2 separate regions of the Homo sapiens genome follow, and region 2 is linked to region 1. The links come from fine-mapping of genetic effects on gene expression. A gene starts in region 1. The other region holds a variant in brackets. All regions are shown on one strand. Distances are between the middles of the regions. Region 1 holds the start of XKR4-AS1 (XKR4 antisense RNA 1). Region 2 overlaps XKR4 (XK related 4).

Evidence for each region. PIP is the estimated chance that this variant, and not a neighbour inherited with it, causes the effect. A credible set is the group of variants that fine-mapping cannot tell apart.
Region 2: its variant is the best candidate, but not a certain one, in a credible set for the expression of XKR4-AS1 in testis (GTEx, PIP 0.69).

What each region holds. Positions count from the first base shown.
Region 1 is chr8:55,519,481-55,522,404 of GRCh38, reverse strand. XKR4-AS1 (XKR4 antisense RNA 1) reads left to right here and starts at 1,427. Exons shown (of 2, transcript NR_134323.1): 1 at 1,427-1,470. All of the region lies in intron 2 of XKR4 (XK related 4), which reads right to left. RefSeq lists an enhancer at 1,319-1,408.
Region 2 is chr8:55,491,251-55,494,174 of GRCh38, reverse strand. The region is part of intron 2 of XKR4 (XK related 4); the gene reads right to left. Among named protein-coding and RNA genes, the nearest start is that of XKR4-AS1, 28 kb to the left of the region's middle. The variant G/C (reference allele first, on the strand shown) is at 1,610.

The DNA.
Region 1 (2,924 bases):
CCTACAGCCTTTATCTGTTCCTTATTGCCTTTCCCACAAAAGAAGACATGTCCGTTCCCTGTCTTCCATCTCTTAGCTCTTCATAGATTAAAGATTGTGCTGAAATTATTTTTCAATCACTCCTCTTATTTTATCATTTTATTGGTCCCATTTGGTTGGTATTCCCTCTAAAAGTAGGCTTCCAAATGTTAAAAGTCATTTGTATTGTTTTCCTCTACTCTTGTTCCACCTCCTGTATGGCACAGTTCATCTCTATCGTCCAGATGTGGCCAGGGCTCACCTAAAAACACACTGGCCTCCTTTAGGAGAGAGCTCTTATGGGAAATTCCTCTGTCACAGAAATGGTATGCCAATCTGCATCGCAGCTGGCTTCCCTAATGAGCTGAACCAAGACTCACCAAGACTAAGAATGGTCTCATCTATTTTAAAGTCTGGCTGGCTTTTTCTTCACCAAATCTATTATTAATCATAACCAGGCCCCATTAAAGCCTTTCTCTTCTTTTGGATATAATAGAAGATATGTTGATTGCCAAGATCTTATAATGGAAATGGTACTTTTTATTCAAAAATATTTTTATAGGGAAGAGCTGTTGTCTATGATCCTTGAAAAATGAAAAGAAAGTACTCTTGTGGAAAAAGACCACACTAATTGACAGGAAATACATTCAACCCCAATAATTATTTCTGATACATCCTCGTTGAGTAAGGTGAACTCCAAAGAACAATTATTGATAAGGAAAATATTTTCTAAGAGCCATTTCTCATATTTCCTCCCAATAAAGCCAGCAGAACAACTAGACATGCTACACTGGGACCTTCAGGTTTTTCTTTTCTTTTCTTTTTCTGGCTAGCACAAAAATCTTTAATTGCTGTAAGTCACAGGCAGCTGTGGTGCTATTTATAGGTCAGAGACCAGTATACAAAGGAGTTTCTGATAATTTAATTTCTAAGCAACAGAAAACATCGACATCAATTATAAAACAAATTCTGGAGTGAAAGAGGGGGAAGGAGAAAAAGTTTAAAAAATGACAAAAGAAGGTGAGAGAAATGCGAAATAAAAGGTAATGGGATAATGACTATGCGAACATCTTTATTATCACTTGGGGATTTAAGAACAAAAGATTGTGCCTTTTTTAATTTCGACGCTTTTGTAGGGCATAGAAGCCGCTCATATCTCTCTTCTTATGTGTACCACTTGCAAACGTGTAGCTTCTCACTAGACTATGCTCCCTTTGTGCTTTTAAACGCGGCGCCCAGCTGGGTTTCTGCCCGGGAACGCCCCTCCCCTTCCTTCACGCCGGCCTCCTTCAGCACAGCTGGGGCACAGCGCCGCCTTCAGGAAGATAACTGCACCGCCGGTCAGGCTCGCGCCAACCAAAGCGGGGTTGTTAACGGGGTGGTCAGAATGGTTCTACCAGTTTGCACAGGAAGACGTTACTTAAGGCTGCTTTCCAAAGCAGTGAAAAAATAGTAAGAAAACTTTAAGTACACAGTATCATGAAATGATGATATGATCTGTTGTCAGATTTAAAAGAATAGAAACATTAGCCTCCTTCAAATTACCCTGTAATCTCTACCCCTTTTATTGCGTGTCCTAAAAGAGTAATTCAGCCTGCGTTTGACACTCCAGGAACTTGTTAAGATGATACTGTAGCCGTAGAAAAATGAAGGCTTTCTATCAGCTTTGCTCTCTCTATATCTTACAATTTAAAAAATCTATACCAAAGGGAAATTTCATGTCCCTGTGATACCCTCTTTATGAATTCTCTGCTTTAGCAATGAGAATTTCTCTTCTTCCTTTGTTGATGATGATGATGATGATTTTTTGAGACAGAGTCTCACTCTGGCTGGAGTGCAGTGGCACGATCTCAGCTTACTGTAGCCGTCACCTCCTGGGTTCAACCCATCCTCATGCCCCAGCCTCCTGAGTAGCTGGGACCATAGGCATGTGCCACCACGCCTGGCTAAGTTTTGTATTTTTAGTAGAGAGGGGGTTTCACCATGTTGGTCAGGCTGGTCTCGAACTCCTTGCTTCAAGTGATCCTCCTGCCTTGGCCTCCCAAAGTGCTAGGATTTTAGGCGTGAGCCACCGTGCTGGGGCTTCCTTTGATTATTATTTACTTTTTCTTCTGTTTAACAATTGATTTTTATAAGACAAATATATGCTGAACAGAAAATATGGGGTCATATACAAGTTAAGACCCTTACAACTTCACAAATTCACAACTGCCACAGAACACTTAGTTCTTTTGCTCTTTATACAAATAATACGAGCTCAGTTTTTTCCAATGCCAAGACAGACTTCCTCAGCAAGGCATGGCCTTATTCTTAGAGTTCTCTGGAGCTTCTGATATGCAGTGGCACAGTGCTGGAACACAGGACTCTGAGCACTCCTTTAGCTATTAATGTGTATTTTAAGTTGTTATTTGAAAATAATTTCAAACTTACAGAAAAATTATAAGACTAGAAATATTATATTGAACATCTATATTTCATTTGCCCTAATTGTCAACTGACTTTATCATTGCCCTCTCTCTGTCTCTGTCTCTCTCTCTCACCCATTTGCGATTAAATGCATACATTATGGTCCTTTATCCTAAAATATGCCAGTGTTTATTTCCTATGAATAGGGGCATTCTCTTACATAACCACATAAAGTTATCAACTTCAATCAATTTAACATTGACACAGTACTTTAAAAAAATCCACTATCAGTATTCTAGTTTCACCAATTGACATTAACAATGTCCATTCCAAAATTTTTCTCCCCTATACAGGATCAAGTCTAGAATCAGGTACTACATTTGGCTGTTGTATTAATTCAGTTTTCTTTAATCTGGATTATTTCCAAATACTTTCTTTGACTTTATGACACTGACATTGTTTGAAGAGTATAGTACTTGAAAATAAGAAAAAAAGAAAAA
Region 2 (2,924 bases), 28 kb after region 1:
CCTGGAGCTGCCCACCCTGCAGCAGCAGCTAGCATGCCTGGACCCCACACTCCACTCATACACCCCTCGCTGCTCTGTGCCTGGCTTGCCCTTGGCAGGCGTGGGATCTAGGCCAGTAGCATGAGCCAAACGCAGCCTGACAGGCCAAATGGGCAGAATGAGCCCAGTGGGACAGAGCAAAACTCGGGCAAAGGCACCACTAGCCACAGAGATTTCCAGCTGGTGAAGTGACACCCCAAAAATCCTATAACAAATGGATGGATACGAAGATTACTAACTTACATTGTGTTTGGGGACCACAAGCAATTAATACCACAGTGAGCAGGAAATCAATACAATCATTGTTTTATCCATTCCTGAAATGGAAAAAGGAGAACTGTGTGGATGGGTAGCACTATTGGGTAAAGGGCACAGTCATCTTTACAGTCTGTTCCTGTATGGTTAGCCCAGATATAGGTTGACTTTTCATGCCACTGCTTATTAAATAAAAATAACAGAAACCACAGTTATTTTTTGAGAGTTTCCTATGTGTCAGGCTTTTCAAAAATAGAGTCATTAAAGCCATAGCTTTAATGTAGCTATAGCTACAGACCCATACTTGCTCTTTTATACTCTTCCCTAAGCCACTGTGGCTGGAAACCTGCAAACTGCATTTGCCAGATTTTGTGCTCAGTTGGGATTCCTTGTTGGCAATGGGAGGCACTCATAACAAATTAAATGTGGGAAGAAGATAGAAACTACCCTGCTTATGGCAGAGGCAGGTGACTACAGACTATTGCAATAGTGCCAGCAGTTCTAGTACCTCTGGAGGTGAGCATAGATGCCTGCAGAGGAAATAGCTAGCAAAACCCAGGCTTTCTGGAGCTCACATGCTGTATCAGGGAAGAGAAATGAGGAATTAGATGGGCATTACTCCTGGTAGGATGCTATGATTTTCTGATGTTTCTCATCTTTGGAAACCACCAACTTTCCCAATTTTTGCTCCTTTAGCTCCCACATTTTGTCTCTTAATTCCTTAATTTAAATCACTTTCTAGCTTGAGATACCTAGAGAAGTTTGTATTTTTCTGAATGAACCAATACTATATCCACTTGGCCCACACTATCCTCTAGAGTCCACTGTGGATAGACAGAAACTTTCCCCCAGACCCAAAGAGTCATTGTTGGCATAGTTACAATTGCCCTGCTACTGAGGATCACATCTGCCCTGTCTGAGCCACAGCTTTGTAAGGCTGTGCTGGCACAGTGCTCACAGATTCACAAGGCCCCTGGTGCTGAGAGAGTGACCTCAGATGTTATGGCTGCAAGTTTGATAATGCCAGGAGAGAGATCTAAAATTCAACTGAATAGCAATACATCATCTGTAAATCACGAGACTGAAAAAAATGCAGGATTCCATGGAATTTAAAGGCCTTTTAAGACAGAAAGAAAGACATGTCTATATCTTAGGAACCAAACAAATGAAGAATCTGATCAAACGATCAACTGGAGTTGGAGTTGAGCACTGCTGTGAGTAGACAGAAGAATTAATGTGTTTATCTTGCATTCAGGAATGTGGGCCAAGTGGCACTTCTTCTAAGCGATGGCATCATGGACATGGCAATCACAAA[G/C]AGTACTCAGTGAGTCCCCTCAGGACTGCCTAGAACACAATCAGTACAATCAGTGTTGTGGTTCAGTTAATGGGGATGGTGACTGTTTTCCTTAATGGGTGAGAATCTTTTAAACCCAGTAAAATTCAGAATTAAATATAGAAATGTTTAAGAGAAATAAAATCATGGCTTAGTATTTTGGGGTTAAGAAGAAACATATACATATTTAGTGTTTAATATACTTGTAATTTTTGAGACAATCTGGCCCATTATAAAGACATTCTTGAAACTCCTACTAAATATATAAAGCATGGACAAATTATCCGGTTCTGAATTTTTTTCCTTTCCATAAACAACTAGACAACTGGAAAAAATATAACAGACAACAATTTCAGATACTGAACAACAGAACAGGCCTGTATCTTAAATAGAAAGAAAATAAATTAGGTGAGACCAGCAATTGCCCTGGCTCTTTGCCTGGAGACACCTTCTAAACTGTGGCACAGGGAAGGGGAATTCAAGTAGAGCATTACTCTGAAAAAGGCAGATGTCAGTGTTCAGGAGAGCTGAGATGGCTGAACTTTGTGGGGAAGAATACCGGAGAGCAGGGAGTGGTGCAAAGAGAAAGTTCCAGAAACCTGCATCGGCATCCTCTTGAGTTTTTTGTTGAATGCTCTGCCATGTATGCATAAACTAGGCAAAAATAGACTCCTGGGGAGTTGTAAACGGAACAATTCTCAGAGCTTACATACGGTTGTGATACTGTACGTTTTGACCATCCAAAATAAAAGAAGCCAGGGCTGTGGTGTGTGCCCGTAATCCTAGCTACTCAAGAGGCTGAGGTGGGAGGATCACTTGAACCTAGGAGTCTCAGGCCAGCCTGGGCAACACAGCGAGACTCTGTTCCCCCTCCTCTCCCCAGCAATAAAAAACAAACAAACAAACAAACAAACAAACAAACCCCCAAAGACATAAAAGAGCCCATTGAACACCTGGAGCATTCAGAAAAGACCCCAGAAGGCTATGTCTTAAAAAGTAGAGCTAAACTAGCCTTAGAATAAAAGATACTCCAGATGTGCCCTACCAGTGTTTTAAGAGGCCCCCAAAACATCAAGCTCATCCACAGGTAAGTTAATTGCCTGCCAGGACAAAATTCAACACTCTTTCAAAGAAGACAACAAAATTCAAATTCCAAATATGCCACATCCAATAAAAAATCATGGACAATGTAAAGCTACAGAAAAATGTGACCAATAACCCAGAGAAAAATCAGCCGATAGAAACATAACCTGAAATAATAAAGATGATGGAATTAGCAAGTGTTAATTTAAAAACT